Linked DNA regions of Homo sapiens: region 2 is linked to region 1. A link means that fine-mapping ties the variant in region 1 to the expression of a gene that starts in the linked region. Tissue or cell type: whole blood. Region 1 holds a variant in brackets; the other region holds the start of a gene. All regions are shown on one strand. Distances are between the middles of the regions.

Region 1 (7,061 bases):
CGCCCGGCGCATGCCGGGAGTGGCAGTGGCCCCCCGCGCCGCAGCCGGCATCGCGGCGGGACCCGGAGCCCGGAGTTCGGGTGGGTAACCCGAGCTCTCCAAGCTCTTGAAGCCGCGAGGGTGGCTTAGCTTCGGTGTTTTGGCTGAGAACACCCTTAAAGCTTAAAATAAAACCTGCCTCTGGGGTGCAGGGGAGGAGAGAGGAGGACGCGAATCACACCCGCTGCTGCGCGCCAGCCCGCCCCGTCTGTACAATGGGATGCTCGGGACTCGGACGGGAGGATCCAGTGACTGCGAGCCCCGCATTCGCCCGATCCCAGCCTCACACCCCCAGCCAGCCCCCAGAGACCCTCCCACACTTACGAAGGAAATGCATGCGGCCAGGAGGAGAATCCGCACCAGGAGGTCTTCAAACTGCTCTATCACCAGCTCCCACAGGGTCTTCCCTGGGGGAGGAGGCAAGGGGAGGGCCCCGGGTTAAGGTCTAGTGGGTGAAGGTCTGGGATGGAGCGCCCTGGACTCCGGCCTGCAGTGGGGAGGCTCTAGGGTGGTGGGCAGACAGCTTGGTGCCCAGAGAAGGGCTAAGAAGCTCGCCTGGAGTCCAGAAACAGACTCGGCAAAGTGGGGGGCAGTTCAAGGGTTGGCTGCTTCAAGGAGAAAGCGCCTGGGAGACTTCTGCCCCGGACAGGACTCTAACCTTTAGGGAGGGAGATTTGCCTTTTGGGAAGGGATATTTGCTCAAAGAATCTAAAGAGGCAGGGAGGAGGGAGTGGGACAGGGCGGGGTGGGGGGTGGTCATTTATGAGAGTTCAGGGATTCCAGTAACTTACCTTCCTCAGCAGGGAGCTCTACCCAGGAAAAAGAAGAAAAGGACAGATTCATTTGGGGTTCAGCCTCATGCCCCCCACACCCAAGACTTTGTGGCTAAGAGAATCAGGCCACCTTGAGGTTCATCAAGTTCATCCCATTAAAACCTCCCAAAACTCTGGATCTCGGGACTCTGTTTTCTCAGTATCTTCTTCCCCCTGCGAGCATTGGACAACGGCCCAGCTCTTCCTTAAGAAACCCTGAAGGGAGAAACGCGTGCATGCGTGTGCGTGTGTTTTGGGGGTGCAGGAGGGCATTAATTACCAGCCGCTCTTCCAAGGGACACTTACCATTGAGGCCGTATTTCTCCAGATTCCGCTTAACTTGGTCCGGGGTGAGGCCCGTGGTCTCACTCACCCCAAAATAGGCCAAACATTCCTCCGTGGTTTTAGCATGAGCGGCCTCCATTGTGCTCCCTTCCTGGGGGCCGGGGCCGGTGTGTTCCTTCCAGGGGGTTCCCACTCGTGGGGGGTCTTCCTCAGTGTGTCCAACTGCCTGTCTGCCTGGGTTTCTTCTTTTTACTCTCCTGCCCCCTCCAGGTTTTTCTTCCCTCCACAAAGCTCTGACCCCCGTCCCACTTGAGCAGCCGGCCACCCCCCGGCCCCCAGCTGGTCCTTATGAGGGAGCAGGGGGAGGCCGGGCTCCCCCCTCCACCAGATCAGGGATTGGCTGGCTGAGACTCCAGCAGGAGGTGGTCAGAAAAGAGAGATATTTCTGCTGACAGAGGGGGAACAGTGGGGCTGCAGCCTGAGATGTCACTCATGAGGGACGCAAAGGTAGCCCCAGCCCCAGGGAAGTGGGGTAGGGAGAGACTTCACTTTCTGTCATCTGCTACTGACCCTGCCCCCCCATTGCCTCGACTTCCCCAGCTGCATTGAATTTCCCATTCCAAACTCATCCCCCCAGTTCTTCCCGGAGCCCTCTTCCATCCCCGGCCTCACCTGTCCCTTTCCTCACACCCCCCTTCCTGCCTCATCTGCCCGGAGCCTGTTTCCATTGCCGCAGTCTCCTTCCTCCTCACCCCATTTGCTGAAGCAGTGGCAGAGATACCCCAAGCCTTTGGGGGACTGATGAAGGGAGAACATCTTTTGGGGGCTAGAGGAAGTGAGTGGCTCCTAGAGGGACAAGGGGAAGTGAGGGGAGAGAGTCAAGGGGACAGGGCCGAAGATGGTAACCCTACCCTAGGGAGGGGTTGCCACAGCCATCAACAAGGGATTTAGTGTCCAGGCCCTGGTGAGCAAAGCCAGCACTGCCTGTCTCTCCCCAAAACTGCCCCCCCCCTTCCCCATCGCTCTAACTCAGCCTCTGGGAACAGAGCCCTGAGGGCCCCCCCATCCTGGATAGGGAATCCCCACCCCACCCCCAAGAAAATGGGACACCAAGGCAGCCAAGTAACCCAAGAGGCTACAGAATGTGCTGATGGCAGAGGGGGAGGGGTAACTGTCTCAGGATGGGGGCAGGGGTCACCCCAAGTCGTGCACTGAGGGTCACCTCATCCCACACTGTGCTCTAACCAACGGGGTTTCTGTGGCCAGCCCCAGAGGCCTGTGGTCTGCGCTGCACTCTGCCCTGCTGCATCTGTCCACGAGGGGAACAGGATCAGGCCCATGCTGTGTGCGTGCAGGAGCTAGGCAGACCCCACAGAAAGGTGTCGGGGCCTGGGGAAGCTGGACCAAGCAGGGGCTCCAGACCAAAGGAATGGGGAAGGGTGGACTTCTGGGGACAGGTCTGGGGGAAATAAGGACAGATGTCTAGACCTAGGGGGAAAGGGAGCAGAGACACAGAGCCACCAGGGTCAGAGGGAAGTCCGAGCAGCAGTGGGGAAGAGGGACAGCAGGGAGCCAGGTGGGCGGGGACCCCGGCGCTGGGTGCAAAGCCACAAGTTGTTGCTGAATGCTGGCCTTGGTGTCAGCTTCCTCAGAGAAGCAGCTGCTCTGAGCTGCCCCTCCCCACCCCTGCTCCAGGATGGGGGCGTCTCTTGGTTACCACCA[G/A]GGCAGCTGCTGGAGGAGCCGAGGGAGGGTACCAGGGGTGCAGGAAGGGGAGGACAGGCAGGCAGAAAGGCTGGATGAGAGTCAGGGTGAAAGGTCAGTGAGGGGAAGGGGCCTGGTGCCCTGGGCTCAAGTCCGTCCTCTGTCTAGGCCTGTTTCCTGAAATGAGCAGAGGCATGTGGACTTCCTAAGTGTGGCTTCTTAAGGCTGCTTTCCATTCTGGGGCTCAAACTCCGAAGCAGAGGACAGAATAGGAGACAGCAGAGCAAAGAAAAGGGAGGCCCCCACTTTTGGGGAGGGGGATGGCAGCAGGGGTGGATGGAACTTGAGGGTTCAGCCTCCCAGATGCATCCCTTCTGCCTGGACTTGGGTGAGGCGCGGCCTCCTGGGTGAGTTGAGGACAAGGTGCTCCTTCCTGCCTCCTTTTCACAGTTCCAACAAACCCCTCCCCTGAAGCAGAATCCTGCTGTGACCTGAGGGGAGTGGGGGACAGTGGGCTGAATTGGGGGTGCAGGAGAGCATTAGCAGCCTCTCTTCCAAGAGACACAGCCCCCGGCACCTCCACCCGGCCCAGCACCCACCGTCTCCGCTGGACTCAGGCTCACACCCGCCAAGGCTTTTGGCGCTGGCCGGCGTCTCCCCACCGGCACCTGGAGGAGTGACAGGGGCTACTGTCTTACAGCAGTGGGAATGCCCAAACATGGAGAGGGGCAGACGGAGAGATGGGCAGCTTCGAGGGAGTCGAGAGCCTGAGACAGAGGGCAGGGGGCAGGCTTGGCAGCACATTCCTGCCAACAGGCCTTTAAGGTTATTCATTTCTACCTCCCCCGGCTTCCCAGAGGGGGAAACAAGCCAGGGAGGGAAAGCCACCCGCCAGGAGCTGCAGAAGGGCTGCTCTAGGGAAGGCTGTGGGTGTGAACTGCCATGGAGGGAGGCTGAGCCAGAGGCGCCCTCGGGGATCCCTTCCCACAGGGGTCTCCACGCCCAGGGATGGAAAGTGATCCTCCTGTCACACCTGAGGGCTGGAGCTAAAAGCATGGGACACAGAGACACCCTGGCCAGTCCCTGATGAGTGCAGAACTTCGGTTTAACCATCTGTAAAGAAAGGCTTAGAGGGAAAGTCTCTCAGGCCCCAACAGCCAAGACATGCTGGTCTGAGGAGTGGGTGGGTGTCCTCGTCCCCCTCCCCTGCCCATCTTTGGAAGGCAGGTCCCTGAAGGCTGGCAGGGCTGGGGGAGGGGGAGCCTCAGAGCACCAGTTGCTGCTGGAAGATTAGGAGGGGATCAGGCCCTGCTTACCTCGGGGCACCACAGCCTTCACTGGCCATCTCACTAAGAACCCAGCACCCGGCTCTCCAAAGCTTCCCCCACTTTCAAGGCCGGTCCTATCCCCAGTCTCCTGAGGCCAAGGTTTGGGGAGCCCCAGAAATTAGAGCAAGCAGGAGAGCCAGCAGGCTTCCCTCGGCTAGCCCCCCGCCTGGGTGGCCTGGAAGCCCAGCTGTCTCCTGTCCATCTCCCTACAGGACACAAGGCCCAGAATAGCAAGGTCATGAGCGTGGGTAGGGCCTCCTGGAGGTGGGGGCTGAAGCTGAGGGGCATGAGGGTGTGGGCTCCTTGCTGCCTGGGCGGGGAGTGAGGCAGGATGCTGAAAGGCGGAGCTGGACAGTGGGGAAGGGAGAAGGCCGAGCTCAGCGGGTGGGATTCTTCAGCCCCAGGCCCCTCCTTGTTGGCACCCACTACCCCCAGAGCTGGGAAGCCCAGGGGTGCCCTCTGTTGGAGGGCACAGCCACAGATCAGGAAGACTGATTCCAAGAGCAGAGCCTGTGTTTTACGGGGTGGAGGGGTGTGCCACAATGGGGGTGGTGTTATAAACTCAAATGCCCACAGGGCCAGGCCCTCCCAGGGAGCAAAGTGAGCTGGTGGGGATGGGGCAGATGTGGAAGTGGACCCACATCACTGGATCTTCTGATTTTTAAGAGAAGCCAGTGATTTTTTTTTTTTTTTTTTTTTTTTTAGACAGAGTCTCGCTCTGTTGCCCAGGTTGGAGTGCAATGGTGCGATCTTGGCTCACAGCAACCTCCACCTCCTGGGCTCAAGCAATTCTCCTACCTTAGCCTCCTGAGTAGCTGGTATTACAGGCGCGCACCACCACACCCGGCTAATTTTTTGTATTTTTAGTAGAGACGGGGTTTCTCCACATTGGTCAGCCTGGTCTCAAACTCCTGACCTCAGGTGATCCACCCACGTCGGCCTCCCAAAGTGCTGGGATTACAGGCGTGAGCCACCACACCTGGCCTGTGATCTGAATTTTTAATGTGAAACTCAAATGGACACCATGTCCAGGCCAAGCAAACCATGTCAGCAGCTCTGACTCAAGATGAAACTTCACATGTCACAGATGAGGATGCTCAGGCCCGGCGTGGCTACACCTTGCCCAGGCCAGTGAGTGGCAAGGCCAGGACAGAAGCTAGTGCCCTCTGCCATCCCTCCAGCCTGGCTTTGAGAAGGGGGCCATTGGGCCCCTCTGCGGCTACCCTGTGACTGCCACGTTCAATCTCTTCCAGCACAGCCACCGTGCCTCCCATCTCTCACTGCCAGCTCTCTCTAGGGTACAAAGCCATAACTCAGGAAGGGCCGCTGGAGATCACCATGCCTGCCATTCACAGCACTGTCCCATGACAAAAACTCGCAGGAGACCCCAAGAGCATCATTTAGTGCTCCACGAACAAGGCTGTCAGACACAGGGATGGCTCCGAAAGCACAGCACTGCAGAATGATGGGGACTGGCCTGGGCCAGCCCTCTGGCCTGTGGGCACTGAGTGGGCTGCCTTCCCAACCCAACTGTCCCCAGTCCCCACAGCAAACAATGGCCATAGCCATCACGATAGAACCGAGATAAACCTTTTTATTTATTTATGCTTCTCCATTTTGTTTAAAACAACAACAACAACCACCTTAATGTAACTGACAGCCCTTCCCCCTCACCCTGCCTCGGGCTGGGGGTAGTTAATGGGGAAATGGCCCCCAGGGTGGGGCTGACCAGAAGAGCCCCTCAAGGAGCTCATGGAGCCCAAATCCCCTGCCCTGGGGAGGGGACCTGTAGTGTGTGACGGGAGCCTCTCCCGAGCCTCTGCTTGTACCATCAAAGATGCCCTTGGCCAACAAGGGTCAGGAAGCATGGGGGAGGGATTTCGGCCTCCTCTGTCCCTACCCAGCCCAATCTCACGAGCAGGGCTGGGGGGTTTAAAAAGGGTGGAGCGGGTGGGGTTGGCTCACACGAAGGAGTACTGGTTGTTAATGGCCCTGGGGTGGCCCCCTTCCTCTCCATCACCCCCTAGTGGTGACTGCTGCAGCTGCACCATTGGGGGCACCCCCGCGTCCCCACCAGACCCAGCGCCCTGGGCCTCTGAGCCTGGGGCTATGGCCTCTTCCAATTCAACCACGGGGACCAGCTCAACCACGGGGACCAGCTCTTCCGGGACCCCTCCACCGCCCGCTTTCTCTTTCTCTTGCCTCTCTTTGGCTGCTGCGGCTGCTGCTGCCGCCACTTCTGGCGCCCTCGACGCCTCTTCTGCCCCAGGCTGTGGGGGATCTGTCCATGAAGGGGGTTCAGGGGGCTGGGGTGGGTCATGGGAGGTGGTCGGTTCTGGATAGGAATGGTAAGAAAACAGACTGATTGTGGAGGCAGGTGAGCTCCTGCCGTGGCCTCCCCTTCACTCAGCCCCCCAGGAGCGTGGCTGTCTCCCCACATCCCATCTCCTGAGCAACCCCCCATCCATGGAAGATGGATCATGGGCGGTGGTGAGAGGAGGACCACACTTACACACAGTCACTCGCTCCGAAGGGCATGAGGGTGCAGGAGGCATCGGGGTGGCATCCATCTCCCTCGCACACCCCCGCATGGCTCCCAGCCTGCTCCCGGCCTGGGGGGAGGGGCAACGTGGGGACAGATGGGACGGTGGGGCAGGGGAAAGGGAGAGATCAGACAGGGACATGAGACATTGAGGGAGGAGGGAAGGGGATCAGACCGAGTGTCCCCGGGAAGGGCAGGCCCAAGGCCAGGCTGCGACGGAGGGCAAAGACGAGGCCAGGATGGGTCCAGGAGACAGACAGACAATGGAACAGAGGATCCGATGGAATGGGGATGCGCCCGCCCACCTCTCAGCTGCCGCCCCGGCTCCGGCCAGGAGCCTTCTGCCTTCCTGTG
Region 2 (6,016 bases), 29 kb after region 1:
TTTTCTCTGGGCTCTTTTCCGAACACCGTGTTTCTCAAACTCTAGCCATTCATTCACTACCTTCCAAAAAATTTGCCATATATTCATACCACACATAATAGTTTTTATTTTATTTTTGAGACAGAGTCTCGCTCTGTCACCCAGGCTGGAGTACAATGGCGTGATATCGGCTCACTGCAACCTCCGCCTCCTGGGTTCAAGCGATTCTCCTGCTTCAGCCTCCTGAGTAGCTGAGACTACAGGCGTGCACCATGCCCAGGTAATTTTGTATTTTTAGTAAAGACGGGATTTCACCATGTTGGCCAGGCTGGTCTCGAACTCCTGGCCTCAAGTGATCCGCCTGCCTCGACCTCCCAAAGTGCTGGGATTATAGGTGTGAGCCATTGTGCCCAGTGCATCCATAATATTATCTACCAAACAATATTCTTTTAAGTTGATCTGTTTTTTTAAAAACTTGATTATTATGCCAGTTTTTTTTCAAGCTAATACACATTAAAATAAATATAGCACCACAAAAATATAAACCATTAATTCAAATACCACCCCCAAAAACTCATAACTTGCTAGTGGCCAATAGTGTCTTAGGATAAATTCCTAGGAGTACAGTGACTTAGGTACAGAGTAGAAACAGAAAACCCTTTTAGGCTGGGCACAGTGGCTCATGCCTGTAATCCCAGCATTTTGAGAGGCCAAGGTGGGCAGACGGCTTGGGCCCCGGTATTGGGAGACCAGCCTGGCCAACATGGCGAAACCCCATCTCTACAAAAAATACAAAAATTAGCCAGGTGTGGTGGTGTATGCTTGTAATCCCAGCTATTTGGGAGGCTGAGGTAGATTGAGCTTGGGAGGCTGAAGCTGCAGTGAGCTGTGACTGCCCTACTATGCTCCAGCCTAGGAGACCCAGCAAGGCTCTGTCAAAAAAACAAAAACAAAATCTGTTTATACTACACATGATACCAGCCTTTCCTAAGCAGAACTGATTAACTGGAGGGCCAGGAAGAGAGAAGTCTTAGCAAGTTCCTCACTTTATCTGAGCAGTAAAATGAGAGTTAAATTATAGTACAGTCTGGCTGGGCATGGTGGCTCACACCTATAATCCCAGCATTTTGGGAGGCCAAGGTGGGTGGATCACTTGAGGTCAGGAGTTCAAGACCAGCCTGGCCAATATGGTGAAACCCCGTCTCTATTAAAAATACAAAAATTAGCTGGGCGTGGTGGCAGGCGCCTGTAATCCCAGCTACTCGGGAGGCTGAGGCAGGAGAATCGCTTGAACCTGGGAGATGGAGGTTGCAGTGAGCCGAGATCGTGTCACTGCACTCCAGCTGGGCAACAGAGTGTGACTCTGTCTCAAAAAAAAAAAAAAAAAAAAAAGGACAGTGCGGTGTGCACACTTTTTGGGGTTTAGTGGTGGTGGATTCCTTAATCACCCTGACCGTCAGTTTTCACACCTGCAAAATGGAGGAAATAATAGTTCCTACTACCCAGGGTAGCACTGGGAGCGCTGATTGTGAAACAATAGGAATGCCTGAACATCATAAAGCTCTAGTTCAGAGTTTCCTAAACTCCTCTGAGTTTTCATTTGAAAAAAAATTTTTTTTTTTGGAGACGGAGTCTCGCTGTGTCGCCCAGGGTGGAGTGCAGTGGCACCATCTCAGCTCACTGCAAGCTCCGCCTCCCGGGTGCAAACAATTATCCTGCCTCAGCCTCCTGAGTAGCTGGTACTACAGGTGCACACTGCCACGCCCAGCTAATTTTTTGTATTTTAGTAGAGACAGAGTTTCACCGTGTTGCCCAGGCTGTTCTCGAACTCCTGAACTCAAGCAATCCACCCGCCCGGCCTCCCAAAGTGCTAGGATTACAGGTGTGAGCCACCACGCCTGGCCAAAATATTTTTATAGAGATGGGGTCTTTCTTGGCTGAGCGTGGTAGCTCACGCCTGTAGTCCCAGCACTTTGGGAGGCCACAATGGGCGGATCACTTGAGGTCTGGAGTTCGAGAGCCGTCTGGCCAACGAGGTGAAACCCCATCTGTACTAAAAATACTAAAATTAGCCAGGCGTGGTGGCACATGCCTGTAGTCCCAGCTACTCAGGAGGCTGAGGTGGGAGAATTGCTTCAACCCAGGAGGTGGAGGTTGCAGTGAGCCGAGATCGCCCCATTGCACTCCAGCCTGGGCGACAGAGTGAGACTCTGTCTCCAAAAAAAAAAAAAAAAAAAAAAAAAAGATGGGGTCTTTCTCTGTCACTCACGGTGGGGTGCAGTGTCATGATCATACCTCACCACAGCCTTGAACTCCTGAGCTCAGGCGATCCTCCTGCCTCGGCCTCCTGAGTAGGAGGGGCTATAGCTGCATGCTACTGTGCCTGGCTAATTTTAAATTTTTTTTTGTAGAGATAGGGTCTCCTAATCTGCCCAGGCTGGTCTTGAACTCCTGGCTTCAAACCGTCCTCCCACCTCAGCCTCCCAAACTGCTGGGACTATAGGCTGGCACTATAGCCACCGTGCCCAGCCTCTTCTCAGTTTTAGAAGAGTGTTTGTTATATAGCTTCCCAGTCTGTGCATAGACCCCACGGAATCATAACCTCCAGGGGAGGAATTAGGGAATCTATTTGAAACAAACACTGTCCACTGAGTCTCAGGATCTGATGAGTTCCGAAACATTAGCCAGGGTTAAGCAGCCATAATTAACACTTTGGAGTGCCCTGTGGAAGCTGCCATGAGATGATGGATGTGAAAGTTAAGGGACATTGACTACCCTTGCACCCATTCATTCAACATTCACTGCATGCTCCACCCTGTTAGGTGCTGGGGACACCGACAGATTAAAGGAGACTCAGGCTCCCCTTAAAGGCTCCCCTAGCTGGCTCCTCATCCTTGGCTCCTCATCTGCAAAATTAGATGGGTGGGGCGATGCCCAACGGAACTGCTCCTTAGGCTGCTGAGGGACTACAGGGGTGGGCAGCGAAGCTGTCTGTCTTGTGGGCTCTGGCCCTGTGAGGTCTAGCAGTACAGGGTCCCCGCAAGCTGCCTGACCTCACAGGGCCCAACACTGACTCCTACCCAGTTCATCTCCTCTCAGGGCTAGATGTCAGGCTCTCCCTATGAAGTGGATACTACTATTCCCATTTTACAGATTAGAAAACAAAGTCTCAGCGAAGAGGGAGGTCACACTTCACCCCATCCCCGAAAGGCGTCCAGGACCTGGTCCCCTACCTCCAGCTGCGGCAGAGGCGGCCAGATATCTCGCAAGACCCGCGTAGCGAGTCGGACTCCGGGGGACTCGGGGTCTCTCTCTGCCGGGCCCAGGAGGAGGTTCCTGAGCAGTCGGAGCCGCAGCTGCCTCCCGGAGCCCGAGCCCCTCCCTCCGGGTCCGGCCTAGCCCGCCTGACTCCCACTCTGATCACCTCCACAGCCCGCCGACCTGAGAACTACTACGCCCATGAGCCTTCGCGGCGCCGGTGATTTAGGGGACGCTCCTCAGTGCCCCCTGCGACCGCCAGAGAGAACTACGTTGCCCCTCAGCCCGAGAGGCGCGAGTGGTGGAAAACCTCTCCATCATACTCCGCCCTCGAGACACCAGCCCCCTCCATGACGTCTTCAGCCGCGCGCCCGACGTCGGCTGAGACGGCCATAGACACTGGCGGCTAGAGGGGCCCGGACTTGCCCTCCCAGCTCTAACTTCCGCCGGAAGTGCCTTCCAGCCGCAGGCGCCCTTCTTCTTCTGTGCGCTCGGGCTCCTGGTCCCGGCTCCCCGGTTACCGGGGCGCGAGTATGACCACAATGGCGGCCGCCACCCTGCTGCGCGCGACGCCCCACTTCAGCGGTGAGTGGTCAGGGAGGGCGATGGCGGCCCAGGAACACTTTGGGGGAGTGGTAGGTGGCTGGGTTCGGTCTGACCCCTTCCCTGCCTGACTCCAAGCTTCGGTCCCGGCAGGTCTCGCCGCCGGCCGGACCTTCCTGCTGCAGGGTCTGTTGCGGCTGCTGAAAGCCCCGGCATTGCCTCTCTTGTGCCGCGGCCTGGCCGTGGAGGCCAAGAAGACTTACGTGCGCGACAAGCCACATGTGAATGTGGGTACCATCGGCCATGTGGACCACGGGAAGACCACGCTGACTGCAGCCATCACGAAGAGTGAGTGGGGTTGGGGCGTCCAGCAGCGCCCTATCTACTGATGGGACCTGGAGCCAGGGAGGCAAGGCCAGCAGAGTGTCTGCTGGAGGAGTTTACTGTGGCCCCAAGAGCCCGAATTTGTGCGACAGGTGGATTGGGAGATGCAAGAGACAAATTTCTCCTGAACAGGAAGAACTTTGTGATCCACCAATGGCTTGGGGATCACAAAGTCGTGGGGAATGCTCTGCAAGCAGAGGCTGTACCCTAAAGAAGTCACAGGGCAGACCCTTAAGGCCCTCTAACATTTCTTTCTGACCCACAGTTCTCTCTGCTGGAAGAGTTAGAGATTGGAGGAGGTTATGTATTTAGGTGGGAGGGTTCAGGGGCGTGGTCTAAGCTCTGCCTCTAGCACTGGAACTTTAGCTGAGAGGTGTGTTCTTTTCCTCCTTTAGTTCTAGCTGAGGGAGGTGGGGCTAAGTTCAAGAAGTACGAGGAGATTGACAATGCCCCGGAGGAGCGAGCTCGGGGTATCACCATCAATGCGGCTCATGTGGAGTATAGCACTGCCGCCCGCCACTACGCCCACACAGACTGCCCGGGTCATGCAGATTATGTTAAGGTGAGGGTTGCTGGGACACTGGAGACAGGGCCAGAAGCTGCCTCTTGTCAGGATAAATGTTAGGCTTGTGGGGAGGAGATTAAGATATTCAGTGTTTGGGTATGAGATGGCAGGTTTGTGGTCTTGGCCACGCAGAATGGGTGGTGAGGAGATGGTAGAGAAAGGTGGGCCTGAGTTTCTAACTGCTACACTTGGCTATATGGATGTGAACTGAAGAGCTCGTTGAACTTGGCTGTTTCCTTTCCTTCTCCTCTCCAGAATATGATCACAGGCACTGCACCCCTCGACGGCTGCATCCTGGTGGTAGCAGCCAATGACGGCCCCATGCCCCAGACCCGAGAGCACTTATTACTGGCCAGACAGGTACTCAGAGCCTGGGTAAGGATGCAAAAGGGAAGAGTGGGGAGTTGGGCCCCTCTGTATATTGTCCCTGTCTCTCTGGCATCTACAGATTGGGGTGGAGCATGTGGTGGTGTATGTGAACAAGGCTGACGCTGTCCAGGACTCTGAGATGGTGGAACTGGTGGAACTGGAGATCCGGGAGCTGCTCACCGAGTTTGGCTATAAAGGGGAGGAGACCCCAGTCATCGTAGGCTCTGCTCTCTGTGCCCTTGAGGTGAACGCGGGGTCAGGCAGGGCAGCTGCTGCAGAGGGTGGGGCTGGATGGGCACCCAGAGCTCTGCTTTGTGTCTGGGAAGTGGCTCTTGATAATCGAGGGAAGTAGAATGGGGATTTCAGAGTCCTGGCACTTCCCCTCAACAGGGTCGGGACCCTGAGTTAGGCCTGAAGTCTGTGCAGAAGCTACTGGATGCTGTGGACACTTACATCCCAGTGCCCGCCCGGGACCTGGAGAAGCCTTTCCTGCTGCCTGTGGAGGCGGTGTACTCCGTCCCTGGTGAGGACTCTGTCTGTTCCCACGCACTCTCTCTAGCAGAAGCCTAGCTCGGGGTCCCTGATATCCTGTCTTATTCCCTCCCAGGCCGTGGCACCGTGGTGACAGGTACACTAGAGCGTGGCATTTTAAAGAAGGGAGACGAGTGTGAGCTCCTAGGACATAGCAAGAACATCCGCACTGTGGTGACAGGTTTGGGAAGCCAGTCTGGAGAGCAGGGCCTGGCTGAAGGGTGGCCTTACCCCGGCAGATCCCTTGTGCCTTCCCTCTGTCTCACATTCGCCTTCCTTCTCCCTGCTCCTTTTCCCTTTCCGTCCTAGGCATTGAGATGTTCCACAAGAGCCTGGAGAGGGCCGAGGCCGGAGATAACCTCGGGGCCCTGGTCCGAGGCTTGAAGC

The links. PIP is the estimated chance that this variant, and not a neighbour inherited with it, causes the effect.
Region 2: TUFM starts here. The variant in region 1 is fine-mapped to the expression of TUFM in whole blood (INTERVAL, PIP 0.97).

Annotation. Positions count from the first base shown.
Region 1 is chr16:28,872,886-28,879,946 of GRCh38, reverse strand. It overlaps SH2B1 (SH2B adaptor protein 1), which reads right to left. Exons shown (of 8, transcript NM_001387430.1): 8 at 5,742-6,500. The coding sequence ends at 6,127. It overlaps ATP2A1 (ATPase sarcoplasmic/endoplasmic reticulum Ca2+ transporting 1), which reads right to left and starts at 1,459. Exons shown (of 23, transcript NM_004320.6): 1 at 1,158-1,459; 2 at 831-848; 3 at 364-446. The coding sequence starts at 1,275. It overlaps ATP2A1-AS1 (ATP2A1 antisense RNA 1), which reads left to right and starts at 26. Exons shown (of 2, transcript NR_046290.1): 1 at 26-405; 2 at 843-990. RefSeq lists silencers at 1-159, 180-229 and enhancers at 300-1,073, 2,319-2,408, 2,419-2,488, 4,993-5,493, 5,494-5,994. The variant G/A (reference allele first, on the strand shown) is at 2,859.
Region 2 is chr16:28,844,024-28,850,039 of GRCh38, reverse strand. It overlaps TUFM (Tu translation elongation factor, mitochondrial), which reads left to right and starts at 3,692. Exons shown (of 10, transcript NM_003321.5): 1 at 3,692-3,822; 2 at 3,934-4,128; 3 at 4,560-4,726; 4 at 4,985-5,089; 5 at 5,178-5,342; 6 at 5,489-5,621; 7 at 5,706-5,810; 8 at 5,939-6,016. The coding sequence starts at 3,771. It also overlaps a transcript of SH2B1 not described here. RefSeq lists an enhancer at 3,341-3,830.